Linked DNA regions of Homo sapiens: region 1 is linked to region 2. Evidence: fine-mapped expression QTL. A gene starts in region 2. The other region holds a variant in brackets. All regions are shown on one strand. Distances are between the middles of the regions.

Region 1 (13,100 bases), 380 kb before region 2:
ATGGAACCTCAAATGAGAATCTGGGGAACACCAATTTAACAGACAGACCCAAATTCAAATTCCAGCTTTGACATTTAATGTCTGTCCGATCATGAGCAAGTTGCTTCAATACTCCCTCCTCAATTTCCTTATCTATGGGATGGAATTAATACCTAAGGTTACAAGAGGGTTGTGAGGATTAAATAATGCATAAAAACCACCTAGCACAGTTCAGGTACCTGGCATCTAGCATTCGCAAGCTGTTCAGGATTCAGAAATTTGCCCAAGCTCATGCGACTGAGGTAGAATTTGAATCCTTCTCATTCTGATTCCAGAGTTCTTTGTATTGCTTTTTTTTTTTTCTTTTTGAGATGGAGCTGGAGTGCATTGGTGTGATCTCGGTTCACAGCAACCTCCCCAGGTTCAAGTGATTCTCCTGCCCCAGCCTCCCCATGTTGCCAAGGGTGGTCTTGAACTCCTTTGCCATGTTACCGAGGGTGGTCTTGAACTCCTGGGCTCAAGCGATCTGCCCGCCTCAGCCTCCCAAAGTGCTGGGATTACAGGTATGAGCCACCATGCCCAACCCTGTATTGCATTATTTTTGTCTCCAAAGTGCCTAAATCCTCAATATGCATTTAAAAAAAAATAATGGCTGGGCACGGTGGCTTACGCCTGTAATCCCAGCACTTTGGGAGGCCAAGGCGGGTGGATCACGAGGTCAGGAGATCCAGACCATCCTGGCTAACACGGTGAAACCCCAACTGTACTGAAAATACAAAAAAAAAAAAAAAAAAAAAAAAAAAAAATTAGCCGGGCGTGGTGGCGGGCACCTGTAATCCCAGCTACCCAGTATTATTTAATCCTCACAACCCTCCTGTAACCTTAGGTATTAATTCCATCCCACAGATAAGGAAATTGAGGAGGGAGTATTGAAGCAACTTGCTCATGATCAGACTGATATTAAATGTCAAAGCTGGAATTTGAATTTGGGTCTGTCTGTTAAATTGGTGTTCCCCAGATTCTCATTTGAGGTTCCATTTCCACATCTATAGAATGGGAACAGACCCTTTCCTCACACGGTTGTTGCGAAGATTGCGAGATTAAATTTGAAAACATTTGGCAACAGTCACACTCAATGCATGCCACGTAGGCTGGACTACAGTCCCAGCCTGTAGGCAGGAGAATGGCGTGAACCCAGGAGGCGGAGCTTGCAGTGAGCCAAGATTGCGCCACTGCACTCCAGCCTGGGCGACAAAGGGAGACTCCTCTCAAAAAAAAGAAAAAAAAAATCATGTTTATTAGGCTGGACCTGATGGCTGACACCCATAATCCCAGCACTTTGGGAGGCCGAGGCAGGCGGATCATTTGAGGTCAGGAATTCAAAACCAGCCTGACCAACATGGTGAAACCCCGTCTCTACTCAAAATACAAAAATTAGCCAGGTGTCGTGGTGGGCGCCCGTAATCCCAGCGCCATTGCACTCCAGCCTGGGTGACAGAATGAAACTCTGTCTAATAAATAAATAAATATTTTTAAAATCATGTTAAATTTGCAAATGGAGTTGAAAACTCAGCTTCAGACTGGATCTAATGAATCTATTTTAGACTTCTGTAGCCTGCAACTCAAGACCTGTGCACATCTACCCAGGTTGGAATTTGCAGAAGGTTGTCGGTAGCTCAATTCTTTTTCTTTTTTTTTGTTTGCTTGTTTGTTTTTGTTTTTGTTTTTGTTTTTAGACAGAGTCACACTCTGTCGCGCAGGCTGGAGTGCAATGGTGCGATCTTGGCTCACTGCAACCTCTGCCTCCCAGGTTCAAGTGATTCTCCTGCCTTACCTCCTGAGTAGCTGGGATTACAGGCGCCCAACACTGCGCCCAGCTAATTCTTTTGTCTTTTGGAACCATGCTTGATTTGAGAACTGGTGAGAGTGAGTAGAAAAAGGAGCCGGGGCTGGGCATGGTGGCTCAAGCCTGTAATCCCAACACTTTGGGAAGCCAAGGCAGGTGGATCACCTGAGGTCAGGAATTTGAGACCAGCCTGACCAACATGGTGAAACCCTGTCTCTACCAAAAATTCAAAAATTAGCCGGATGTGGTGGTGCATGCCTGTAATCCCAGCTATTTCAGGAGGCTGAAAGAGGAGAATCGCTTGAACCTGCGAGGCAGAGGTTGCAGTGAGCCGGGATCGCGCCATTGCACTCCAGCCTGGGTAACAAGAGTGAAACTCCTTCTCTCCCCGACCAAAAAAAAAAAAGCCAAGTGAGTCTCCTCCAGCAGGTTGCAAACATTCACCAGAGCCCTAGAGCAGGTGGATTAGAGAAGTAGTTCACAGACTGTTTTGTGCCTTAGAATCTCATTAGAGAACCAGTGGTTGGAGGCAGAGCTCAGCAATCTGCATCTTTAATAGCTTCCTTGGTATGAGTTCTTTGAACAGATGTTATGGTTCTAATGTGTCACATGTCCTGGAGACTTAGCAGTGAAGGAGACAGACATGGTTCCTGCTTTCTTGGGATTTACTGTCAAGTGAAAGAGACAGACCTTAGACCGTTATGCAACTAATTATTTTTTATTTTTTTTTTTAATTTTTTTGAGATGGAGTCTCACTCTGTCAGCCAGGCTGGAGTGCAGTGGTGTGATCTTGGCTCACTGCAGCCTCCGTCTCCTGGGTTCAAGCGATTCTCCTGCTTCAGCCTCCTGAGTAGCTGGGATTACAGACATGCGCTACCATGCCTGGCTAATTTTTGTATTTTTAGTAGAGACGGGGTTTTACTATGTTGGCCAGGCTGGTCTCAAACTCCCGACCTCAGGTATCCACCTGCTTCAGCCTCCCAAAGTGCTGGGATTACAGGCGTGAACCACCATGCCTGGACAAATTATTTAAATTACAATTTTGATTGGCACCTCAAAGGGAAAATATGAGGTGCTGTGAGGGCATTCACCACCTAGCAGGAGAGCCTTTTCTTCCAAGGAAATATGTTGGACTTTTGCAGAAGCTCCAACACATCCAAGAACAGCAATTTCCCATGCACTGAAGCACCTTCTTGAAATCTCAGGGCTCCATGGAACAGAGTTCGAAAACTGCTCATTCATATTCCTCTGTAGTGGATGCTGTCATGTGCTACCCAGACTATGGCACTCGTTTTCCCACATCTCCCACTCCATCAAGTTGCTGAAGAATTTCAGCTGAGTCTCTCTCTGGCCACTATCCTGAGTTGAAGGGAGCCACTTAGCTCATGGTTACGCCTCCTTCCAGCAGTCTGCCTCCAATGACTGGTTGATGGGAGAGAAGAGTACAGAGGCCCGGACCCTCAGCCTCCATTTGAAACAACTCTGAAGGATTATCCCAGCTTTATTGTACCCCTTAGGATCAGATGAATCCTCCATTGCAGCAGCATTGCAGCCCAACTTCTGCCCAGTTATGCTTCTCACTGTCCTGTAATATGATTCCCCAGTAAACCCTCTGTAGGCAAATCTCCATCTCAGTCTCCTTAAAAGAGTACTTAAAACACTCTCTTATTACAGATGGTTAAAATAAGGACCAGAGTGGGGAAATGACCTACCTGAGGTCTCACAAGCCTGAACCTTCAGATCCTCTTCATAGTCTGTCACCACCCTGTGCCACAGTCCTACAACTTCCTGCTTTGACTTGCCCTGCCTGAGGCTAGAGGCAACAGCTGTAGTGGCCAGAATAGGTTCTCACTCCAATGGCTGGAGACCTTGGACAAGTCAATTCCCCTCTCTGGGGAGGTTAAGTATTGCCTGAGTTCAACATCTTCTCTCAAGTCTACCTCTGTGCAATGTGCCTGGTCCTGAGAAAAACCATGTCTCAGCTGGTGATGGCAGCAGAAATTCCTTCCGCCCATGTTTGAATCACCTCTGACCTCACAGTTGGATTATATTTGGAGTGGTGGTGGGGAGCTTTGAGTTCTGTCCCATTTCTGAGTTTCCAAACTCACATTTCAAGAAGGAACCTCTTTTCTTTTTCTTTCCCTTTTTTTTTTTTTTTTTTTTTTGAGACAGAGTCTTGCTCTGTCACCCAGACTGGAGTGCAGTGGCATGATCTCGGCTCACTGCAATCTCCGCCTCCCAGGTTCAAGCAATTCTCCTGCCTCAGCCTCCCGAGTAGCTAGGATTACAGGCGTGTGCCACCACGCCCGGCTAATTTTTGTATTTTTAGTAGAGACAGGGTTTCACCATGTTGGCCAGGCTGGTCTCGAATGCCTGACCTCGTGGTCCACCCACCTCGGCCTCCCAAAGTGCTGGAATTACAGGCATGAGCCACTGCGCCCAGCAGGAAGCTCTTTTCTTTGTTCATGCCAACATTATCAAGTACTTTATTGTGTCCCAGCCCCTGCTCATGCTGGCAGTACAGCAGTGAATAAGACAGACAGCTGTGGTCCTCATGGGCCTATAAACCCCAGTGGGAAAAATGAACATCACACAAATTCTTTTTTTTCTTTTTTTGAGATGAAGTCTCACTCTGTCACCTAGGCTTGAGGGCAGTGGCACAATCTCTTCTCACTGCAACCTCTGCCTCCTGGGTTCAAGCGATCCTCCCACCTCAGCCTCCTGAATAGCTGGGATTACAGGCGTGTGCCACCACGCCCGGCTAGCTTTTTGTATTTTTAGTAGAGGCAGGGTTTCACCATATTGGCCAGGTTGATCGTGACCTCAAGTGATCTGCCTGCCTTGGCCTCCCAGAGTGCTGGGATTACAGGCGTGAGCCACCACGTCCAGCTCGTCACACAAATTCTTGTGATAAGCCCTGGGGAAAGAAAGAGCACAGGGAGCTATGAGAAAGTACAGCCTACCCTGGACTTGAAGGATAAGAAAGGATCGGCCAAGGATGAGAGGGGAGAAAAGAGCATGGAGCAAAGATAACTTCTGGCAGAGGAAACAGCATGGGGAAAGGATTTGAAGCAGGAAGGAGAAGGCAGCCTTGTAGGGACAGAAGGAGCTGGGAGAACATAAGAAAGGCTGAGGCTGAGAAGAAAGCCCCAGGGCAGATCTAGCAGGACCTCACAGGGTACATCAGGAATTTTGGACTTTACCCTATGGGCAATGGGAAGTCTTCAAAGGAAATTTTGCTGTTTATTACAAAATAGTTTGTATTTATTAGAAGAAAGAGTGGAGAAAGTAGTAAGGCTTATTTAGGAACTTCTTTGTGCCAAGTAGCCCATGAAGTACATCACAGGCATGTTTTTCGTTTTTGTTTTAGTTTTTTTTTTTTGAGACAGGGTCTCTCTCAGTGGCACCATCACAGCTCACCGTAGCCTCGACCTCCTGGGCTCAAGCCATCCTCCTGCCTTAGCCTCCAAGTAGCTGGGATTACAGGTGCAAATTACCATGCCTGGCTAATTTTTTATTTTATTTTTTGCAGAGACGTTGGTCTTGCTATGTTGCCCAGGCTGATCTTGAACTCCTGTGCTCAAGCAATCCTCCTGCTTTCTCCTCCCAAAGTGCTGAGATTACAGGCGTGAGGCACCACACCCAGCCCGGCAGGATCTTATTTAATTTTCACTGCCGCACTAGATAGTAGAGCCCACTATTAGCTCCTTTTTTTTTTTTCCCAGATGGAGTCTTGCTTTGCTGCCCAGGCTGGAGTGCAGTGGAGTGATCTCGGCAACCTCCACCTCCCAGGTTCAAGCAATTCTCCTGCCTCAGCTTCCCAAGTAACCAGGATTACAGACGCCCACCACCACGCCCAGCTATTTTTTGTATCTCAGTAGAGATGGGGTTTCGCCATGTTGGCCAGGCAGGTCTTGAAACTTCTGACCTCAGGTGATCTGCCCAACTCGGCCTCCCAAAGTGCTGGGATTACAGGCATGAGCCATCACGCCCAGCATTTTTTTTCTTTTTTTTTTTTTTTGAGACGGAGTTTCGCTCTTGTTGCCCACACTGGAGTGTAATGGCACAATCTCGGCTCACCGCCACCTCTGCCTCCTGGGTTCAAGCGATTCTTCTGCCTCAACCTCACAAGTAGCTGGGATTACAGGCATGTGCCAACACACCCAGCTAATTTTGTATTTTTAGTAGAGATGGGTTTCTCCATGTTGGTCAGGCTGGTCTCGAACTCCCGACCTAAGGTAATCCGCCTGCCTCAGCCTCCCAAATTGCTGGGATTACAGGCCTGGCCTTTTTTTTTTTTTTTTTTTTAAGATGGAGTTTCGCTCGCTCTGTCGCCCAGGCTGGAGTGCAGTGGTGCGATCTCGGCTCACTGCAACCTCTGCCTCCCGCGTTCAAGTGATTCTCCTGTCTCAGCCTCTCGAGTAGCTGGGGCTACAGGCGCCTGCCACCAGGCCCGGCTAATTTTTATATTTTTAGTAGAGATGGAATTTCACTATGTTGGCCAGGCTGGTCTTGAACTCCCGACCTTGTGAGATGCACCCACCCCGGCCTCCCAAAGTGCTGGGATTACAGGCATGAGCCATCGCACTTGGCCTTTTTTTTTTTTTTTTTTTTTGAGATGGAGTCTTGCCCTTTCACCCACGCTGGAGTGCAGTGGCGCAATCTTGGCTCACTGCAACCTCTGCCTTCCAGGCTCAAGCCATTCTCCTTCCTCAGCCTCCCGAGTAGCTGGGATTACAAGCACGTGCCACCACCCCCGGCTAATTTTTGTATTTTTAGCAGAGACCAGGTTTCACCATGTTGCCCAGGCTGGTCTAGAACTCCTGAGCTCAAGCGATCCACCCACCTCAGCCTCCCAAAGTGCTGGGATTACAGGTGTGAGCCACCGTGCTCAGCCTATTATTTCCATTTTAAAGTGGATCCCAAACACCACCCAGAGGATCCATCTTCCTTCTTTAACCCTTACAAAGTGCTTCTGTTTTCTGAGGCATTTTTTTTTCTAAAATTATAATCATTTGTGTGGCTTCGTCATCTCCCCATTCAATTGGGGGTCCCAGGAAGGCAGGGATTTTTGTCTGGTATGTTCTCTACTGCATTTATCTCCAGAGCCTAGCACAGGGCCTGACATGTAGCAGGGGTTGAAGAAATAGGTGTGGAATACATGCTTGTATCCACCAGGATACCTGGGCTAGTTCTGGGCCCAGGTGGCAGTGCTTAAGAAACAATAGCCTCCTGCTGCTGTGGACATGGCCTCTGCTCTGGCTGTCTCTCCCTGCCTGGTTGTCTGTTAAATGGCCAGCTCTCAGATACTCAGCACCAGTCTGGTGTCGGGGAAAGAGCTTGGACTTTGGAACCAGACAAATGAGGCTCAAATCTGAGTGCAAAGCCATCTGGAATGAGGCAGAATTTAAATAAACAAGATCAAGTACCCGTATGGCTCTTGGTAACTTCCTTTAATTTCTTCATCTATAAAATGGGAACATTACCATCTACATAAAAAAAAATTATTGCTGGGCACGGTGGCTCATGCCTGTAATCCCAGCACTTTGGCAGGCTAAGGCAGGTGGATCACTTGAGGTCAGGAGTTTGAGACCAGCCTGGTCAACATGGTGAAACCCCCGTTTCTATTAAAAATACAAAAATTAGCTGGACTTGGTGGCAGGCACCTGTAGTCCCAGCTACTTGGGAGTCTGAGGTGGGAGAATAGCTTGAACTTGGGAGGTGGAGGTTGCAGTGAGCTGAGATGGCACCATTGCACTCCGCCCTGGGAGACAGAGTGAGACTCTGCCTTAAAAAAAAAAAAAATTGTCAGAATCAAATGAGAAAATGTTGGATTCCATAGGCCAGGCTTTAAAAAGAGAAAGAGAAAATGATTATAAAGTGCCTGTTTAGTTAAGTTCTTCTTTTCAGCAGAAGACAGAGTCAGTACCATTTTCTTAGATTCAAAGCCACAGGTTCCTCATCTATGAAATGGGAGTTGTGAGATAAAAGATAGTATAGAATTCCCACAACCTGGAATGCTCTTCTCCAGACAAGCTCTTTCTAAACCTGCAGTTTCACCTTTAACATCGTCTCATCAGAGAGTTCGGACCTGACCCCTGTTTCTCAGCCTCACCCTGCCCCTTCCCATTTCTTTTCTCTTCAACACGTTTCATAATCTTTATTGTTTCCTGCCTGTCTCCATGTTCACCGTTGTATCCCAATGTCTACCATATGCTAGCATAAGTGCTCAATAAATGTTTGTTGTTTTCATTACATTTTTTTTCTTCCCGTTTATTTTAGGTTCAAGGAGTCATTAAATATTTTGGCGGCAGAGTGGAGTGGCTCACACTGGTAATCCCAGCACTTTGGTAGGCTGAGGTGGGAGGATCGCTTGAGCCCAGGGGTTCAAGACCAGCCCCTGGTCTTGAATGAGACCCAGACTCTACAAAAAATAGAAAAATTAGCTGGAGGTGGAGGCACGTACCTGTAGTCCCAGCTACTTGGGGGGCTGAGGTGGGAGGATCGCTTGAGCCTGGGAGGTCGAGGCTGCAGTGAGCTGTGATTGCACCACTGCACTCCAGCCTGAGTGATGGAGTGAGACCATGTCTCAATATCTAAATATACACATACATATATAAATATAAATATATATATATA[TA/T]TATATTTTTTTTTTTTTGAGATGGAGTCTTGCTCTGTCGCCCAGGCTGGAGTGCAGTAGCACTATCTCAGCTCACTGCAAGCTCCACCTCCCGGGTTCATGCCATTCTCCTGCCTCAGCCTCCCTAGTAGCTGGGACTACAGGCGCCTGCCACCACGCCTGGCTAATTTTTTGTATTTTTAGTAGAGACGGGGTTTCACCTTGTTAGCCAGGATGGTCTCGATCTCCTGACCTTGTGATCCGCCCATCTTGGCCTCCCAAAGTGCTGGGATTACAGGCGTGAGCCACTGCGCCTGGCCTATATATATATATATTTTTTTTTAATCACTTATTTATGAGCCAAGACTGTTCTAGGCAATCCTAACCACAATCCTGAGACATAGGCAAAGTGAGGATTTTACCAATTTTTAGCTATGAAAGCTGAGGTCTAGCAATATTAACATTGCCCAGACATGTCCCAAGCAAATGAGCAGGAGTTCTAAACTCTCCAGAAAGTGCTCTTTCCACCCACCCTTCCACTGCCTTCCAAGGGAAGGAGCACTGCAGGCCCAGGTACTAGTCCAGGCACTGTCTTAATTTGTGGCTTTAAGATGTAAACAAGTCACTTCTTTCCCTGAAGGAAAATGTTAGTTTCCCCATCTCTAAAATGGGGAGAATCTTTGACCTGATCAGTGGTTAAGAATCAGCTGAGTTGACTGACATGTTGTGGTAAATTAAAAAATAATAATAAATTTTTTTTTAAAGAATCAGCTGAAATAATAGGCTGAAAGCATTTAATAAACTGAAATGCACTCACTTATGGAGGAGGTTTGTTTGTTTTTGAGACAGGGTCTCATTCTGTCGCCAAGGCTGGAGTGGCACGATCTCCTCTCACTGCAGCCTCCGCCTCCCAGGTTCAAGCAATTCTCAAGCTTCAGCCTCCCAAGTAGCTGGGATTACAGGTGTGCGCCACTATGCTCCACTAATTTTATATTTTTAGTAGAGATGGGGTTTCCCCATGTTGGCCAGACTGGTCTTGAACTCCTGATCTCAAGTGATCCACCCGCCTTGGCCTCCCAAAGTGCTGAGATTACAGGCGTGAGCCACTGCACCCTGCCGATGAAGGAATTTTTAAATATTAATATGCAGAATGAACATTCTTCCCAGAAGACACTGTGGGCTGGGGAAGCCAGGGAAGTTTCCTAGAAGTGGTGGCATTTCAGCTGGGCCTCCGGTGCTCCTGGGTAAGAATTTGGGGAAACAAATCTCAGAGCCAAAGTCACTGACCAACCAAAGAAGAACCCTCTAAGCCTCTTTTCCTGTTTCACATTGATATCTTCCTCCAATCTGCATTTCCCTGCCGCAATTTATTTTTTCCTTTCAAACCAAATTTATACAGTAGAATCTGCATATAATAAAATGCACACTTTTTTTTTTTTTTTTGAGACAGTCTCACTCTGTCACCCAGGCTGGAGGGCAGTGGCATGATCTTGGCTCACTGCAACCTCTGCCTCCCGAGTTCAAGCGATTCTCCTGCCTCAGCCTCCCTAGTAGCTGGGATTAACAGGCGACCGCCACCACGTCTGGCTAATTTTTTGTATTGTTAGTAGAGCCGGGGTTATACCATGTTGCCCAGGCTGGTTTCAAACTCCTGAGCTCAGGCAATCCGCCCGCCTCAGCTTCCCAAAGTGCTGGGATAAAAGGCGCGAGCCACCGTGCCCGGCCAAAACGCACTCATTTTAAATGCAGACATTTCCATGAGTTTTGAGAAAAGCATACGCCTATGCAACTACCATCCAAATCTAATTTCCTTGTGCTCCTTTGCAGTGAATATCCCATCCTGCTTTCTGGCCCCAGGCACCCACTATCAGCTTTCTGTTATTACAAATTAGTTTTGTTTTTGTTTTTGTTGTTATTCTTAATCCATTTAATTCTTTAGCAGATGACAAAGTTTTGCATTCAAAAATTAGCTTTTAAGTTTAGAACACAAACATAATGCAACAAAATGTATTAATTCACTAGTCTTAAGACAATATTGTCATTGTGGAGTGTTTGCTAATGAATGCAGAGGTCATTAGATAAATTGACAGTAACCTATTGAAGAAAAGAACTATAATAATCATAATTTACACATTTACTGAAGAGAGTTTGACCATTAATAAAAATTATACCTACACATCGGGTGTGGTGGTTTACATCTGCAATCCCAACTACTCAGGAAGCTGAGGTGGGAAAACTGAAGCTGACCCCAGGAGTTCCAGAAAAGCCTGGGCAATGTTGCAGGATTCCATTTCAAAAAAATTATACCGCACTTTGGGAGGCCGAGGCAGGTGGATCACAGTCGGAATTTGAGACTAGCCTGACCAACATGGAGAAACCCTGTCTCTACTAAAAATATAAAATTAGCCGGGTGTGGTGGCACATGCCTGTAATCCCAGCTACTTGGGAGGCTGAGCCAGGAGAAATCGCTTGAACCCAGGAGGCGGAAGTTGTGGTGAGCCAAGATCGTGTCATTGCACTCCAGCCTGGGCAACAACAGCGAAACTCCATCTCAAAAAAAAAAAAAAAATTATACCACACTTTGGGAGGCCAAGGTGGGTGGATCACCTGAGGTTGGGAGTTCGAGACCAGCCTGGCTAACAAGGTGAAACCCCGTCTCTACTAAAAATACAAAAAATTAGCCGGGCGCGGTGGCAGGCGCCTGTAGTCCCAGCTACTCGGGAGGCTGAGGCAGGAGAATGGCGTGAACCCGGGAAGCGGAGCTTGCAGTGAGCCGAGATTGCGCCACTGCAGTCCGCAGTCCGGCCTGGGCGACAGAGCGAGACTCCGTCTCAAAAAAAAAAAAAAAAAAAAAAAAAAAAAAAAAAAAAATTAGCCGGGCGTGGTGGCACATGCCTGTAATCCCAGCCACTCAGGAGGCTGAGGCAGGAGAATAACTTAAACCCAGAAGGCGGAAGTTGCGGTGAGCTGAGATTGTGCCATTGCCCTCCAGCCTGGGCAATAAGAGCAAAACTCTGTCTCAAAAAAAAAAAAAAAATTATACCTAAAAAACTTACAATAAGTACATAGATAACGTGATCACTTCTTGAGAAATGATGACATATAAATGGCAATATTTTCTATTAACAAATATTTGTTATTATTCTTATTTTTTGAGACAGGGTCTCACTCCACCGCCCAAGCTGGAGTGCAGTGGCACGATCATGGCTCACTGCAGCCTCAACCTCCCTAGCTCAAGTGATCCGCCCACCTTGGCCTCCCAAAGTGCTGGGATTACAGGCCTGAGCCACCACACCTGGCCTCATTGTGTAATCTTTTGTGTTTGTCTTCTTCGTTACCATAAAGCTTTTGAAGCTAATTCATGTTGTCGTGTGTATCCATAGTTCATTCCTTTTTGTTGCTGAGCACAATACTATTGTATGGATATATTACAATTCATTTATTCATTCATGAGTTGATAGACATTTGAGTTGTTTCCAATTTTGGCTATTATGAGTAAACCTGCTATTTATGTGGACATACCCAGCTATTTTTATTTTTTATTTTTTGTAGAGATGAGGGTCTCCCTATGTTGCCCAGACTGGTCTAGACCTCTTGGGCTCCAGTGATCCTCCTGCCTTGACCTCCCAAAATGCTGGGGCTACAGAGATGAGCCGCTGCACCCAGCTCCAGTTCCAGTTGCTCTGCATCTTTGCCAACACTTGGTATTGTCAGTCTTTTGACAGTCTTGTTGACATTGGTCTAGTGATTAAAACCCTATGCACTGGAGCCAGAGTTCAAATTCCAGCTCTACCATTTGTTGTATGACTTTAGGTGAGTCACTTCACCTCTGTTAGTCTCAGTTTACTCTTCTGGGAAAAGGGATAATAGTTCATAAGATCCTTATGTCTATTCAGTTAAATCAGTGGTTCTTACTTAGGGATGATTTTGTCCTCACGGGATATTTGGCAAAGTTTGGAGACATTTTTGGCTGTTACAGGGGGCCTCTGGCATCTCAGTGGGTAGAGGCCAGGGAAGCTGCTAAACATCCTCCAATGCATAGGGTGGTCCCTTTGAACACAGAGTTATCCAGTCCAAAAAGTCAATGGCCCTGAGCTTGAGAAATTCTGAATTATATAATGCACGTAATGTGTTCAATACAACACCTGGCACATATCAACTGCTTAGTAAATGGAAAACAAATAGACTTTGGGGAAAAAACGTGTTTTCAGGAGGAGCAATCTGAGTTTGATGGATCCAAATCATCATGGTCCTTTTCCCAAATATCTACCACAAGGCTGTTATGACGTGAGGAGGCTCACAACAAAGAACAACTGGTTTTATCACATAAATACCACGGAAACCAAAAAGTGAGCAATATGTTCAAGACAGCAGACCTGTAGCCTTGGACCTTGGACTCCTCTGTGTGGGGGAGGATGGGAAGGCTCGCACGTTCCATGCCTCCTCCCCCGCCAGGCAGCATCTCCCCTGGCTGGAGTTCCAGCTGTTGTCTGGGTCAGCGCAAACAGAGACCTTTGGGCTGCCCAAGATCCAGGATTTACAGCCCACAGACTCCTCCCAGTTTACCGGAGTGTTTGGAAGACATTCCAGGTCAGCAGGAATTAAGTAGGGCCCCCGAGGGGAGTGTGTGTCACGTGGTCTGACGACACAGCCAGG
Region 2 (16,522 bases):
ACAAAACTCCATCTCAAAAAAAAAAAAAAAAAAATTGGGCTGGGCATAGTGGCTCATGCCTGTAATCACAGCACTTTGAGAGGCTGAGGCGGGTGAATCACTTGAGGCCAGGAGTTCAAGACCAGCCTGGCTGACAAGAACAAAACTCCATCTCAAAAAAAAAAAAAAAAAATTGGGCTGGGCCTAGTGGCTCATGCCTGTAATCACAGCACTTTGGGAGGCTGAGGCGGGTGAATCACTTGAGGCCAGGAGTTCAAGACCAGCCTGGACAACATGGTAAAACCCCGTCTCTACAAAAAATGCAAAAGCTAGCTGGACATGGTGGCATGGGCCTGTAGTCCCAGCCTGTAAAAACCTTTGTTGAACCTGGGAGGCAGAGGTTGCAGTGAGCCGAGATTGCGCCACTGCACTCCAGCCTGGGCGATAGAGCAAGACTCCCTCTCAAAAAAAAAAAAAAGAAAAAAAATTAACTGGACTTGGTGGCACATGCCTGTAATCCCAGCTACTCGGGAGGCTGAGGCGGGAGAATTACTTGAACCCAGAAGGGGGAGGATGCAGTAACCTGAGATCATACCACTGCACTCCAACTTGGGCAACAGAGCAAGACTCTGTCTCAAAAGAAAAAAAAAAGAATTCAGTAGGCTTTCTATCAACGAGTCAGACTATTCCGATTGCTGCTTTGCCTCTGCTGTCCATTACGGTAACTACATCTGCTTTGCCTTTGATGGTTGAGTGTTGCCACTTGGCTCCTGCCACCTTGGGATTTAATTATTCCCACTGCGTTTAAGTTTTCCAATTGAGTGAGTACAGTTCCCACTGTACGATCTGGCATACAGAGAGGAGCAATCACAGAGCTCTTCAAGGACACGGGTGCTCCCTTCAGAAATCTGTTTCACAAGGTTATACCCTATGGTGAAGGATAGGTCTTCTGGACCCTCCCAGTGGGGATGAGTAGGTCTAAAGTGACTAATCCACTCTAGCGTTCCAATTTCCCTAAGCCTTTGGATCCCTTCCTCTACATTAAACCAAGGGAGATTGGAATGCTACTAAAAATACAAAAAGGTGGGCTTGGTGATGTGCGCCTGTAATTCCAGCTACTAGGGAAGCTGAGGCACGAGAATCTCTTGAACCTGGGAGGCAGAGGCTACAGTGAGCGGAGGTCACATCACTGCACTCCAGCCTGGGCGACAGAATGAAGACCCTCTCAAAAAAACCAAAAAAGGCCGGGCATGGTGGCTCACGCCCGTAATCCCAGCACTTTGGGAGGCCGAGGCAGGCGGATCACGAGGTCAGGAGTTCAAGACCAGACTAACCAACATGGTGAAACCCCGTCTCTACTAGAAATACAAAAATTAGCTGGGTGTGGTGGCGCGTGCCTGTAATCCCAGCTACTCAGGAGGCTGAGGCAGAACTGCTTGAACCCAGAAGGCGGAGGTTGCAACTGAGCAACACAGTGAAACTCTGTCACAAAAAAAAAAAAAAAAAAAAAAAATTAGCTGGGCGTGGTGGTGTGCACCTATAGTCCCCACTACTTGGGAGGCTGAGGCAGGAGAAATGCGGGAACCTGGGAGGCAGAGATTGTAGTGAGCTGACAGTGCGTCACTGCACTCCAGCCTGGGCAACAGAGTGAGACTTTTTTTTGTCTCAAAAAAAAGACAAAAAGGAAAAAAATCGACACAGGGCAGGGTGCGGTGGCTCACACCTGTAATCCCTGCACTTTGGGAGGCCGAGGTGGGTATATCACCTGAGGTCAGGAGTTCGAGACGAGCCTGGCCAACATGAGGATACCCTGAATCTACTAAAAATACAAAAAATTAGCTGGGCGTGGTGGTGCACGCCTGTAATCTCAGCTACTCAGGAGGCTGAGGCAGAAGAATCATTTGAACCCAGGAGGTGGAGGTTGTAGTGAGCTGAGATCGTGCCACTGCACTCTGGCCTGGGCAACAAGAGGAAAACTCCATCTCAAAAATAAATAAATAAATAAACAAAGAAACACAGAATAAACATGTGATCCAGCAATTCCTCTTCGGGGTATAGACGCAAAATAATTGAAACCAGGAACTTGAACAGATATTCGTACACCCTCGTTCATAGCATCATAGCAGCATTACTCACAATAGCCAAAAAGTATAAACAATTCAAATGTCCATCAAAGGATAAATGGATACACCAAATCAATGGATGTCTATACAATGGAAATATTATTTGGTCATAAAAAGGAATGAAGTACTGAAACATGCCATAGCATGAATTAACTTTGAACACATTATGCCAGGTTAAATAAACCAGACTCAAAAGGACAAATATTGTACAATACTACTTATAGGAAGCACTTAGCACAGTCAAATTCTGGCTAGGCACAGTGGCTCATGCCTGTAATCCCAGCACTCTGGGAGGCCGACGCGGGTAGATCACTTGAGGTCATGAGCTTGAGACCAGCCTGGACAACATGGCGAAACAACGCCTCTACTAAAAATACAAAAATTTGCTGGGTGTGGTGGTGCACGCCAGCAGTCCTACTACTCTGGAGTAGCTATTCTGGAGGCTGAAATGGGAGAATTGCTTGAACCTGGGAGGCGGAGGTTGCAGTGAGCCAAGATTGCACCACTGCACTGTGGCCTGGGTGACAGAGCGAGACTCTGTCTCAAAAAAAATGTTAAAATGGTAAACTTTATGTAATGTCTATTTTATCACAATAAAAAATTAAAAGTTAATTTAAAAATGAAATAATTTAAAAGGAAAGATATTGAAGAGTAAGATTTTGGGTGTGCCTGTGATATCCCTGACACTGAGCTGGGAGGTGGTCACTGGCTCAGGGAGCTTACACGCTAATGAGCCAACAGTGCTTATGCCAAGTGTCCACATCATGCCTGGTAGAGCAGAAGTGCTCATAAATGTAGTTATTATTTGATAACCCTCAGCTCACTTTTGAAAGTAAGCAGGATTCCAAATTAAACCACCTTGGAGAAGTCTTATGACACAATGGTGACATTCTGTCTCCCAGTAAAGAATCTGTTTTCGCCTGGGCTCGGTGGCTTACGCCTATAATCCCAGGACTTTGGGAGGCCGAGGTAGGTGTATCACCTCAGGTCAGGAGTTCAAGACCAGCTTGGACAACATGGTGAAACCCCGTCTCTACTAAAAATACAAAAATTAGCCGGGTGCGGTGGCGAGGGCCTGTAGTCCCAGCTATTCAAGAGGCTGAGGCAGGAGAATCGATTGAACCCAGGAGATGGAGGTTGCAGTGAGCCAAAATGGTGCCACTGCACTCCAGCCTGGGTGACAGAATGAGACTCTGTCTCAGAAAAAACAAAAAGAATCTGTTTTTTCAGGCCAGGTGTGGTGGCTCACGCCTGTAATCCCAGCACTTTGGGAGGCTGAGGAGAGCGGATCGTTTGATGCTAGGAGTTCAAGACCAGCCTGGCCAACATAGTGAAACCCTGTCTTTACTAAAAATAAAAAAATTAGCTGGACATGGTGGCGCGTGCCTGTAGTCCTAGCTACTCAGGAGGCTGAGGCAGAAGAATCGCTTGAAAACGGGAGGTGGAGGTTGCACTGTGCTCCAGCTTGGGCAACAGAGTGAGACTTTGTCTCAAAAAAAAAAAAAGATTCCGTTTTTTTCTTTTTTGTACAGAACAATAGGAACATACTAGCAAAAAATCTCATTGTAAATTTCTCAAATTGTTGTACTGATCAATGTGTAACCTGTGGGACACTAAATGGGACGCTGATTTATTTTTTTTTTAAGATTAACTGAAGCGCACCTCTGGAGGCTGAGGTTGGAGGATCCCTTGAGCCCAGGAGTTCCAGGCTATAGTGAATTATGATTGCACCATTGTACTCTACCCTGAGCAGCGAAGTGAGACCCTGTCTCTTTTTTTTTTTTTTTGAGACGGAGTCTAGCTGTCACCCAGGCTGGAGTGCAGTGGCGCGATCTGGGCTCACTGCAAGCTCCGCCTCCCGGGTTCACGCCATTCTCCTGCCTCAGCTTCCCCAGTAGCTGGGACTACAGGCGCCCGCCACCACGCCCAGCTAACTTTTTGTATTTTTAGTAGAGGTGGGGTTTCACCGTGTTAGCCAGGATGGTCTTGATCTCCTGACCTCATGATCTGCCCGCCTTGGCCTCCCAAAGTGCTGGGATTACAGGTGTGAGACACCGCGCCCGACCGACCCTGTCTCTAAAAAAAAGAAAAAAAGCCAGGCGCGGTGGCTCACACCTGTAATCCCAGCATTTTGGGAGGCCAAGGCGGGTGGATCAGGAGATCGAGACCATCCTGGCTAACACGGTGCAACTCTGTCTGTACTAAAAATACAAAAAATTAGCCCGGCATGGTGGCATGCACCTGTAGTCCCAGCTACTTGGGAGGCTGAGGCAGGAGAATCGCTTGAACCTGGGAGGCAGAGGTTGTAGTGAGCTGAGATCGCGCCACTGCACTCCAGCCTGGGCAACAGAATGAGACTCCGTCTCAAAAAAAAAAAAAAAGGCCGAGCACGGTGGCTCACGCCTGTAATCCCAGCATTTTGGGAGGCCAAGGCAGGTGGATCACCTGAGGTCGGGAGTTCGAGACCAGCCTGACCAACATGGAGAAACCCCATCTCTACTAAATATACAAAATTAGCCGGGCATGGTGGTGCATGCATGTAATTCCAGCTACTCAGGAGGCTAAGGCAGGAGAATCACTTGAACCTGGGAGGTGGAGGTTTTGGTGAGCCGATATCACGCCATTGCACTCCAGCCTGGGCAAGAGCGAAACTCCGTCTCAAAAAAAAAAAAAAAAAAAAGAAAAGGAAGAAAAAAAGAGGACAATTCTGGTATGAGGACCCCACGCCCTTGTTTTAAACTTTCCTGTAAAAACCTTTGTCCTTGGGACAGACTCGGGAACATGCCCAACTCTGCTGGTGTGTCTTCCTGGGTCAATTCTCACATTTGCCTTCCAATAAGCCTTTATCAAATTATTTCTGTCTCATCAGGCTTAAGTTTAGTTGCATAATGGTCACCATCACAGATAAGTAGACTGAGGCCCAGAGAGAGCCTTAACAAAGGAATGAAGGTCCTACGACAAGGGAGGCAGCACCGACTGGGCTCTGAGTTCTGTAAGGTGAGTGGGTGGTAAGTGTCAGTGGAAGGTTTGTTATTGTTGTTGTTGTTGTTTCGAGACAGAGTCATGTAGGCTGGAGTGCAGTGGCCTGATCATGGCTCACTGCAGCCTTAAACTCCTGGACTCAAGCCATTCACCCGCCTTGGCCTCCCAAAGTGCTGGGATTACAGCTGTGAGTCTCCGCAACCGGCCTTGCCTTTTGTTTTGGTTGCGGTGGTGGACCCTGGGTGAGGGTAGGGGTGCGGTGGGGTGGAGCAGGAGGTGATACACCTGACTGCTGCATCTAGATTCATCCTAGTCTTTTTTTTTTTTTTTTTTTGCACCAACTGGCAGAATTTCCTCCCTTTCTCTCTCTGCCTCCTTTTCTGATTCACTCTCCATCTGTTAGTGGCTTCTGGCTTCTGAGAATGTGGATGCAGAAGGGTGGGGTAAGCTGTGGGGGGTGGGGAAGTAGATACAAAAACACAGGCAGTCCTTAATAGGCTTTCAAATATTTTTTGAGTGCTCTCTAGGTATCAAGCAATATTCTAGGAGCTGGGGGAGTCCTACCATGAATAAAATCGAGTTTGTCCCTGCTTTCACAGAGGTTCCATTGCAGGGTATATATGTATGGAGGGGAGGGGAGGGAACTGTAGATACAGACGGGGACAAGATATGTCAGGAATGGGTAAGGGCTATAAAGGAGGTAAGAGTGTCTGGGGAGAAGGCACAGCTTGAGACAATGAGAACAGCGAAGACCACGCTGAGGAGCTGGGACCTGGGAGATGCAAAGGAGGCAGCTGAAGATCCAGAGGAAGAGGGTGCCTGGCCTGGCGAAACAGGGAAAGGCTGTGAAATCCATGTGTTGGAGGAACTTTAGGAAGGCCAGTGTGGCTGGACTAGAGAGACAGAAAGAAGGCAAGTCAAGGCCAGGCGCAGTGGCTCACATCCGTAATCCCAGCACTTTGGGAAGCTGAGGTGGAGTTCGAGACCAGCCTGGCCAACGTGGTGAAACCCCATCTCTACTAAAAATATAAAAATTAGCCAGGTGTGGTGGCATGTGCCTGTAGTCCCAGCTACTTGGGAGAATGAGGTGGGAGAATCACTTGAACTTGGGAGGCAGAAGTTGCAGTGAGCCGAGATTGCGCCACTGCACTCCAGCCTGGGTGACAGAGTAAGGCTCCGTCTCGAAAAAAAAAAAAGAAAGAAAGAAAGTAAAGAAAGGATCCCAGTGCCAGGTCCTATAGACCATGATGGGGAGTTCACAAGCAATTTTTTTTAAAGGGGATAGGAGGCCACTAAAAGAATTAAGAATGAAGACTCAAAGGCAGCAAGACAGGAAGTAGGGAGACCAATTAGGAGGCACTGGCTGTGACAGAGGCAGATGATGATGATCTGGACCAGTGGGGGTTAGAGAAGAGATGATATTCTAGGGGTCTTTGGGAGGTGACTGAGAGATGAGGGCAACATTCCCTGAGGTGGGGGACACTAGGACAGAAGCAGGTTTGTTGAAGACATCTAAGGTGGGTGGGGAAAGAAACAAATTCAGTTGTGGGCATGTGGAGTATGGAGAGTCGGTGGACAGCCAGAGACACTGTTCCAGGCTGGAGGAGAGACCAGATGATGCTTGAAGTTTTTGTCTTTTAAAAAATCAGTTGCCAGAAGTGGTGGCTCCAGGCAGATCACCGGAGGTTAGGAGTTTGAGACCAACCTGCCCAACACGGTGAAACGACGTCTCTGCTAAAAATACAAAAATTAGCCAGGTGTGGTGGTGGGGACCTGTAATCCCAGCTACTTCCGGGGCTGAGGCAGGAGAATCACTTGAACTCAGGAGTCAGAGGTTGCAGTGAGCCGAGATGGCACCACTGCACTCGAGCCTGAGTGACAAGAGTGAGACTCTGTCTCAAAAAAAAAAAAATATCAGTTATAGGCCAGGAACAGTGGCCTGTAATCCCAGCACTTTGGGAGACCGAGGCGGGTGGGTCACCTAAGGTCATGAGTTTGGGGCCAGCCTGGCCAACATAGTGAAACCCCGTCTCTACCAAAAATACAAAAATTAGTCAGGTGTGGCAGCACATGCCTGTAATCCCTGCTACTCAGGAGGCTGAGGCAGGAGAATCCCTTGAACTCAGAAGGTAGAGGCTGCAGTGAGCTGAGATTGTAGGGCCACTGCACTCCAGCCTGGCGACAGAGCGAGACCCCATCTCAAAAAAAAAAAAAAAAAAATCAGTTATCATCCAGGCACGGTGGCCCACGACTATAATTCCAGCACTTTGGGAGGCCGAGGTGGGTGGATCACTTGAGCTCAGGAATTTGAGACCAGCCTTGGTAACATGGTGAAACCCCAGCTCTATGAAAAATACAAAAAGGAGCTGGGCGTGGTTGTGCAAGCCTATAGTCTCAGCTACTCGGGAAGTCAAGATTGGAGGATCACTTGTGCCCAGGAGGAGACTCTATCCTCCAAAATAACTAAATAAAAATAAATGGCCAGGCACGGTGGCTCACGCCTGTAATGCCAGCACTTTGGGAGACTGAGGCAGGAGGATCACGAGGTCAAGAGATTGAGACCATCCTGGCCAACATGGTGAAACCCTGTCTCTACCAGAAATACAAAAATTGGCTGGGCGCGATGGCTCATGCCTGTAATCCCAGCACTTTGGGAGGCCAAGGCAGCAGATCATGAGGTCAAGAGATCGAGATCATCCTGGCCAACACGGTGAAACCCCGTCTCTACTAAAAATACAAAAAATTAACCAGGCGTGGTGGCTCGTGCTTGTAGTCCCAGCTACTCGGGAGGCTGAGGCAGGAGAATCGCTTTAACCTGGGAGGCAGCCAAGATCGCACCACTGCACAGACCGAGACTCCGTCTCCAAATCAATCAATCAATAAACAAACAATTATGGTGGCTCACACCTGTAATCCCAGCACTTTGGGAGGCCAAGGCAGGAGGATTGCTTGAGCCCAGGAGTTAGAGACCAGAGTGGGCAACATGGTAAAACCCCATTTCTACTAAAAATGTAAAAATTAGCCAGGCATGGTGGTTCCTGCTTGTGGTCCCAGCTACTCCGGGGGCTGAGGCAGGAGGACTGCTTGAGCACTGGAGGCTGGGGCTGCAGTGAGCCGAGATCCCGCCACTGCACTCAGCCTGGGAGATCAACCCAGACCGGTCCCCCCCACCAAAAAAAAGAAAAAAAGAAAGAAAAGAAAAGAAGGGCCGGGCGCGGTGGCTCACGCCTGTAATTCAACACTTTGGGAGGCTGAGGCGGACGGATCACAAGGTCAGGAGATCGAGACCATCCTAGCTAAGACGGTGAAACCCTGTCTCTACTAAAAAATACAAAAAAATTAGCCAGGCGTAGTGGCGGACGCCTGTAGTCCTAGCTACTGAGGAGACTGAGGCAGGAGAATGGTGTGAACCCAGGAGGCGGAGCTTGCAGTGAGCCGAGATTGCGCCACTGCACTCCGGCCTGGGCGACAGAGCAAGACTCCGTCTCAAAAAAAAAAAAAAAGAGAAACTTACTTAGTAGGGTTGCTGTGAGGATTATACAAGACAGAAGCATCTTCACCAAGCCATAGGCCATAGAAAGGTCTTTTTGTTTGTTTGTTTTTTGAGATAGAGTCTCACTCTGTTGCCCAGGCTGGAGTGCAATGGCCTGATCTCGGCTCACTGCAACCTCCGCCTCCCGGGTTCAAGTGATTCTCCTGGCTCAGCCTTCTGAGTAGCTGGGACTAGAGGCGCGTGCCACGACGCCCGGCTAATTTCTGTATTTTTAGTAGAGACGGGGTTTCACCATGTTGCCCAGGCTGGTCTCGAACTCCTGGTCTCAAGTGATCTGTCCGCCTCGGCTTCCCAAAGTGTGGGATTACAGGCGTAAGCCACCACACCTGGCCATAGAAAGGTCTTAATACGGCCGGGCGCGGTGGCTCACGCCTGTAATCCCAGCTCTTTGGGAGGCCCAGGCGGGTGGATCATGAGGTCAGATATTGAGACCATCCTGGCCAACATGGTGAAATCCTGTCTTTACTAAAATACAAAAAAAAAAAAAAATTGCCGGGCGTGGTGTCGCGCGCCTCTAGTGCCAGCTCTTCGGGAGGCTGAGGCCGGAGAATCACTTGAACCCAGGAGGCTGAAGCTGCAGTGAGCCGAGATCGCGCCACTGCACTCCAGCCTGGCCAAAGAGCAAGACTCTGTCTAAAAAAATAAATAAATAAATAAAAAATAAAGGTCTTAATACTTGTTAATTACTATTACTGACCCCAGGAACTCTCTGAAGCACTTTTCATGCAGGTATCACCTTCTTTAGCACTCACATTATGTCTTATCGGAAACAGGTTTAGAGCTGTCAAGAAATTCCTCCAGAGTCGTTTACACTTCCAGCAGGGGAGTCAAGACTTCAACCCAGAAACTCACAAGCAGGAAAAACTTGGCAAACAGGCACGGGTCAGACAATGCTTAGGGCTTGCTCAAGGACTCGTGACCAGTTACTGATCTATGCAGATCTTCTGATTGCAAACTGATAGCTGGATTGTAACTTGAAGGGTCCGATAAGATGTAAACTTCATAAAACAGGATTTGGGGAGGTAAATGGAGTAGAGTCCTCCAGAGGAGTCGAGAAAGCTAGCTTGGCCCTCAATTGTGGTTGAGGTGATTCTTTCATTTAGGGCCTATTTTCCTCATCTATGAGTGCGGGAAGGAGAGTTACTGGGGTCTCTAGCGACCTTTCCAACACTGATTTTCAAGGGCGAAAGAATTCTGCTTAGGTAAGGCCCAAATCCCTTGGCTAAGGTTAATCCTCGGTGGGACCGGCAATAGGGACGCGTCCCCTTTAAGGCGCCAGCTCTCCGGCGGCGGCGGCCGGAAGTGTTGAAGCCCGGCCTGGCGGCGGCGGTGGCGGTAGCTGCCGTGGCGGCCTCTGCGCATGCTCCGTCGCCTGCCCGCCCTGGCCGCTCGCCGCCCGCCCGCCCGACGGAGACGGTGAGGAGGGGGAGGGGTGGGCGCGCGGGCGCGGGGTGGGGTGGGGGCGGGGGGGCGGGCGCGGGGGCCGCGCGGCGGCCGGCGAGGGCGGGCGGGCGCGCAGGGGGCGGGGGGCTGCTGCCTCCGCGGGCGCCTCCCCACGCCCTGTGCGTGCCGCCGCCGCCGCCGGGGAGCGAGCGGACGTCGCGGCGCCGCGGGGGGGTGGGGGGACGCTGCCGCTGGGTCCGCCCGAGCCGCCGGGCCGCCCCCAGCGCAGCCGGCCGCGCCGCCGGGGCTCGGGCCCCAGACCAGGGCGGCGGGAACCGGCGAGTCCACCACTGGGGGGGCCCCGGCGCCCCCGGACCGAGGGGCCCGGAAGTACTCGGCTCAGGGGCCAGGAGGGGCCGGAGTGACTCCGGACTGAGAGGGCCAGGCGCCCAGGACCCCATCGAGGGGTCCGGGGAGCCTGGGGTATCCCCAAAGGCGGGGTCCGGGGAGCACCGGGCCCTTGGATGAGGAGCTGGTTGGAGGCCTGGGTCCTGCCCAGTGGGAGGGGGACGATAGGTGCTGGAAGCCCGGATGCCCGCCTGGGAGGAGACCCTCTCGGAGCCTTGGCGGGAGAGCAAGAGTACAGAGTGGGTTCTTCTGAGGAGAGCAGAGTCCAGCTTATCCCGAGGGGCGCGGTAGAGGCCTCGGCCACTCAGAACAAGGGAAAAAAGGGCAGGTTTTTTCCAAAGGCAGGGAAGGAAGAGGAGCTCTAAGGGGAAGTGAGCAGGCCCAGGTCTCCCCACAGATGAGCGCGTGGTAGGAAGACTCCTAGAGCCTCCTGAAGTACGAAAGAGCAGCGTCCAAACCTGAGGGGATGGAAGGTGTCTAGGTGCCTCTTGATGTCTAGGTGGAGAACAAAGTAACCCGCTCGGTCAGGGGATGGAGAAACCTATCTTTTTGAGAGAAGCAGAGATCGTTGAGGAAAGATGCTTAAGGTGTTCCCGCTTTCTGAAATGACAGGAATTGGCCAGGTGTTATCTAATTGAGGGGCAGGAGAGATGAAGGCAAAATCTCAACCCGAGGGTCTTTGGAGGATGATCCACAAGACAAGAGGGTGAAGTCTTGACCTAGACAGCAGAGCAGGCGCAGCCCTGGATTCTCTCAAGATGAGAGAAATCTCAAAACCACTTCCTAGTAGACACAGATGGGGCCTTGATTGGTGTCTGTTTAGGCCAATCAAGACGGGTTTTAGGAAAAGAGACTGTCAGACATAATTCTAGTCTTGAGGGATTATCTTCTTCCTCCTTGCCTCTTCTAATAGTTACCAAAGTGCATTTGGGGACCCTTTTTATTTATTTATTTATTTATTTGTTTTTTGAGACGGAGTCTCACTCTATCGCCCAGGCTGGAGTGGTGGCTCACTGCAACTTCCGCCTCCTGGGTTCAAACGATTCTCCTGCCTCAGCCTCCCGAGTAGCTGGGACTACAGGCGCGTGCCACCACACCAGCCAATTTTGTTGTTGTTGTTGTTGTTGTTTGAGACGGAGTTTCACTCCTGTTGCCCAGACTGGAGTGCAATGGCGCGATCTCAGCTCACTGCAACCTCCGCCTCTTGGGTTCAAGCGATTCTCCTGCCTCACCCTCCCGAGTAGCTGGGGCTACAGGCGCCCGCCACCACACCCAGCTAATTTTTGTATTTTTAATAGAGACGGGGTTTCACCATGTTGGCCAGGCTGGTCTCGAACTCCCAACCTCAGGTGATCCCACATCCTCAGCCTCCCAGAGTACTGGGATTACAGGCGTGAATCACTGCGCCTGGCCCAACCAGGCTAATTTTTTTGTGTTTTTAGTAGAGACGGGGTTTCACCATGTTAGCCAGGATGGTTTCGATCTCCTGACCTTGTGATTCGCCCGCGTTGGCCTCCTAAAGTGCTGGTATTACAGGCGTGAGCCACTGCGCCCGGCGGGGGAAACTTATTCAATGGTTGCACCGTCTCCTAATTTGAGAGCCTTATATCAAGGATGTATATTTAATATCTTACTTAAATGATTTTTTTTGGGTTCCTATTTACTTCAGCAAATACATTGTATAGGTAGCTTCTACTCAGCTTCATTGGGTTTATTGTGGGGGCAGTATTTTGGTCTTGCCCTAAGCCAAAGTCCACCGGACTGTAGCGGGATGACTCCAAATAACTCTTATCCCATCGCTCCCTCAAACATCTACATAATAGTCTCCAGTCTGTGACTTAGAATTTCACCTCCTCTGGATACTTCCCTCAGTGTTTCTGCATAATTTACTTGTTGACCTCATTACATCTTGTAGCACTATGGATCACCCACTGAATGCATGAGAAGAAATAAAGGGGATATCAAGGAGTTTTGGCCTCAAGTAATAATAAAGTTTTAACTTGGATTTTTCCCCCCGTTTTAAACAAAACTGTAGTTTAGAGTGGAAATTTCTTTTTTATTTTATTTTTTTGGGGGAACAGAGTTTCCCTCTGTTGCCCAGGTGAGAGTGCATTGCGGGATCTCAGCTCACTGCAAACTCGATCCTCTCAGCTCAGCCTCCTGAGTAGCTGGGACTACAGGTGCGTGGCACTGCGCCCGCCTAATTTTGTTAGTTTTCTGGCGGGCGCTGTGATTTATGCCTGTAATGCCAGCACTGTGGGAGGCCGAGACAGGCGGCCTCCCAAAGTGAGCGGCCTCCTCGGCCTCTCTTTAGCTCGAGTTCCAGACCAGCTTGGGCAACATGGTGAAACCCCGTCTCTACAAAAAATGACAAAAATTAGATGGGCGTGGTGGAGCTAGTTGCCTGTGGTCCCAGCTACTCTGGAGGCTTAAGTGGGAGGATCGCTTGAGCTCCGGAAGTCGAGGTTGCAGTGAGCCGAGAGCGCACCACTGCTCTCCGGCCTGGGTGACAGAGTGAGACTATGTCTCACTAAAAAATAAATAAATAAATATATAAAAAATAAAACGACTACACAGTCTTCAAAAGTTATAATAGAGTGTGGAATAAATAAATATTTTGGGCTGGGCGCGGTAGCTCACGCCTGTAATCCCAGCACTTTGGGAGGTGGAGGCGGGCGGATCACCTGAGGTCAGGAGTTTGAGACCCACCTGGCCAACATGGTGAAACCCTGTCTCTACTAAAAAATACAAAAATTAGCTGGGCGTGGTGGCAGATGCTTGTAATCCCAGCTCCTTGGGAGGCAGGAGAATTGCTTGAACTTGGGAGGCGGAAGTTGCAGTGAGCCGAGACCGTGCCATTGCACTCCAGCCTGGGCAACAAGAGAGAAACTCCGTCTCAAAAAAAAAATTAAATAAATATTTTGGGGTTAGAAAATTTCAGAAAATCTCGTACTCATTTTTACTTTTTTTTTTAACTTTTATTTTTATTTATTTATTTATTTATTTATTTATTTATTTATTTTTGAGACGGAGTCTCACTCTGTCGCCCAGGCTGGAGTGCAATGGCGCGATCTTGGCTCACTGCAAGCTCCGCCTCCCGGGTTCACGCCATTCTCCTCCTCAGCCTCCCGAGTAGCTGGGACTACTCTCCCGCCACCACTCCCAGCTAATTTTTTTTTTTTGTATTTTTTGTAGAGATGGGGTTTCACCGTGTTAGCCAGGATGATCTCCATCTCCTGACCTCGTGATCCGCCCGCCTCAGCCTCCCAAAGTGCTGGGATTACAGGCTTGAGCCACCACGCCCGGCCTACTTTTTTAAGTCCCCAGAAAGTGCCAATATTATTATTATTATTTTTTGTTATTATACTTTAAGTTCTAGGGTACATGTGCACAACGTGCAGGTTTGTTACATATGTATACATGTGCCATGTTGGTGTGCTGCACCCATTAACTCGTCATTTATATTAGGTATATCTACTAATGCTATCCCTCCCCACTCTGGCCTGGGTGACATATTGTTCCTTTTTTTTTTTTTTTTTTTGTTTTGACGGAGTCTCGCTCTGTTGCCAGGCTGGAGTGCAGTGGCACAATCTCAGCTCACTGCAACCTCCTCCTCCTGGGTTCAAGTGATTCTCCTGCCTCAGCCTCCCGAGTACTGGGACTACAGGCACATGCCACCATGCCCAGATAATTTTTTTTTTTTTGAGTTTTGCTCTTGTTGCCCAGGCTGGAGTGCAGTGGCGCGATCTCGGCTCAGCGCAACCTCTGCCTCCCGGGTTCAAGTGGTTCTCCTGCCTCAGCTTCCCGAGTAGATAGGATTACAGGCATGTGCCACTACGCCCGGCTAATTTTGTATTTTTAGTAGAGACGTGGTTTCTCCATGTTGGCCAGCTGGTCTTGAACTCCCCACCTCAGGTGATCCGCCTGCCTCGGCCTCCCGAAGTGCTGGGATTACAGGTGTGAGCCACTGCGCCCAGCCAGTATTACTCCTTTTTCATTACTAGTTCCAATGTCCTTCCCTGCAATCATGTGACACTTGTCCATTTTTCGTTTGTTTGTTTTTTTGAGATGGAGTTTCCAGGCTGGAGTGCAGTGGCTGTGGCGCGTTCTTGTCTCACTGTAACCTCCGCCTCCTGGGTTCAAGCGATTCTCCTGCCTCAGCCTCCTGAGTAGCTGGGATTACAGGCACCCACAACCACGCCTGGCTAATTTTTGTATTTTTAGTAGAGACGGGGTTTCACCATGTTGGCCAGGCTGGTCTCGAACCCCTGACCTTGTGATCCACCCTCCTTGGCCTCCCAAAGTGCTGGGATTACAGGCGTGAGCCACTGCGTGCAGCCTGACACTTGTCCTTATTCAAACATAGCATCTTGCCACATTATAGACATTGGATTTTCAGGACACACAAAAATGAATTTAGAGTGGGTCAGAAATCATTTGTTTAGTTTTCTGGTGGCTATATAAGCAGCGATGTGCTTAGTTTCAAAGTGTTGTTTTTGTCTTTGGAAATAACTACAGGCTGGGCACAGTCGCTCAGGTCTTTAATCTCAGCACTTTGGGAGGCCGAGGTGAGAGGATTGCTTGAGCCCAGGAGTTTGACACCAGGCTAGGCAACATAGCAAGACCTCATGTCTACAAAGAAGTAAAGAAATTAGGCCAGGCGTGGTGTCTCATGCCTGTCCCAGCACTTTGGGAGGCCGTGGTGGGTGGATCACGAGGTCAGGAGTTCAAGACCAGCCTGGCCAACATGATGAAACCCTGTCTCTACTAAAAATACAAAAAATTAGCCAGGCATGGTGGCGGGCACCTGTAATCCCAGCTACTCGGGAGGCTGAGGCTGAGACAGAATTGCTTGAACTAGGGAGGTGGAGGTTGCAGTGAGCCAAGACCCTGCCATTGCACTCCAGCCTGGGTGACAGAGCGAGACTCCGTCTGAAAAAAAAAAAAAAAGTTAATGAAAAAAAGGAAAACAGAAATGAGCAGGGTTGGTGGTTGGTACCCATAGTGCCAGCTACTCCAGAGGCTGAGGTGGGAGGATCACTTGAGGCCCCAAGGTCGGGGCTGCAGTGAGCCAAAAACACTGTACTCCACACTGGTCTGGGTGACAGAGGGTGACCCTGTCTCAAAAAACAAAACGAAAGAAAACAAAAACCCAAAAAACTACGGAACAGTTAATTTTATTTATTTATTTATTTATTTTTTTGAGACGGAGTCTCCCTCTGTTCCCCATGTACAAAGGCACAATCTTGGCTCACCTGCAACCTCCGCCTCCTGGGCTCAAGTGATTCTCCTACCTCAGCCTCCCGAGTAGCTGAGATTACAGACATGGGCCACCACGCTTGGCTAATTTTGTATTTTTAGTAGAGATGGGGTTTCTCCATGTTTGTCAGGCTGGTCTCTTAACTCCCGACCTCAGGTGATCTGACTGCCTGGTCCTCCCAAAGTGCTGGGATTACAGGTGTGGGCCACCGTGCCCGGCCAGAATAGTTAATTCTTTTTTTTTTTTTTTTTTTTTTTTTTTTGAGACGGAGTCTCGCTCTGTCGCCCAGGCTGGAGTGCAGTGGCGGGATCTTGGCTCACTGCAAGCTCCGCCTCCCGGGTTCACGCCATTCTCCTGCCTCAGCCTCCCAAGTAGCTGGGACTACAGGCGCCCGCCACTACGCCCGGCTAATTTTTTGTATTTTTAGTAGAGACGGGGTTTCACCGTTTTTAGCCGGGATGGTCTCGATCTCCTGACCTCGTGATCCGCCCGCCTCGGCCTCCCAAAGTGCTGGGATTACAGGCGTGAGCCACCGCGCCCGGCCTTTTTTTTTTTTTTTTTGAGACGGAGTCTTGCTCTGTCGTCCAGGCTGGAGTGCAGTGGCTCCATCTTGGCTCACTGCAAGCTCTGCCTCCTGGGTTCACGCCATTCTCCTGCCTCAGCCTCCCAAGTAGCTGGGACTACAGGCGTGCGCTACCACGCTGAGCTAATTTTTTGTATTTTTAGTAGAGACGAGGTTTCACCATGTTAGCCAGGATGGTCTTGATCTCCTGACCTTGTGATCCACCTGCCTTGGCCTCCCAAAGTGCTGGGATTACAGGCGTGAGCCACCGC

Direction of the effects. Positions count from the first base shown, and alleles are read on the strand shown. Sizes are in standard deviations (SD) of each study's normalised expression.
As copies of T replace TA in region 1, the expression in CD4 T cells of the gene that starts at base 9,998 in region 2 goes up (moderate effect, 0.70 SD a copy in BLUEPRINT).

What was found. PIP is the estimated chance that this variant, and not a neighbour inherited with it, causes the effect.
Region 1: its variant is fine-mapped to the expression of GMEB1 in CD4 T cells (BLUEPRINT, PIP 0.95).

Annotation. Positions count from the first base shown.
Region 1 is chr1:28,283,926-28,297,025 of GRCh38, forward strand. No RefSeq gene overlaps it. Among named protein-coding and RNA genes, the nearest start is that of SESN2, 31 kb to the left of the region's middle. RefSeq lists an enhancer at 5,983-6,977. The variant TA/T (reference allele first, on the strand shown) is at 8,465.
Region 2 is chr1:28,658,787-28,675,308 of GRCh38, forward strand. It overlaps GMEB1 (glucocorticoid modulatory element binding protein 1), which reads left to right and starts at 9,998. Exons shown (of 10, transcript NM_001319674.2): 1 at 9,998-10,053. RefSeq lists silencers at 9,970-10,109, 10,140-10,249, 10,260-10,549 and enhancers at 11,080-11,129, 11,180-11,239, 12,738-13,256.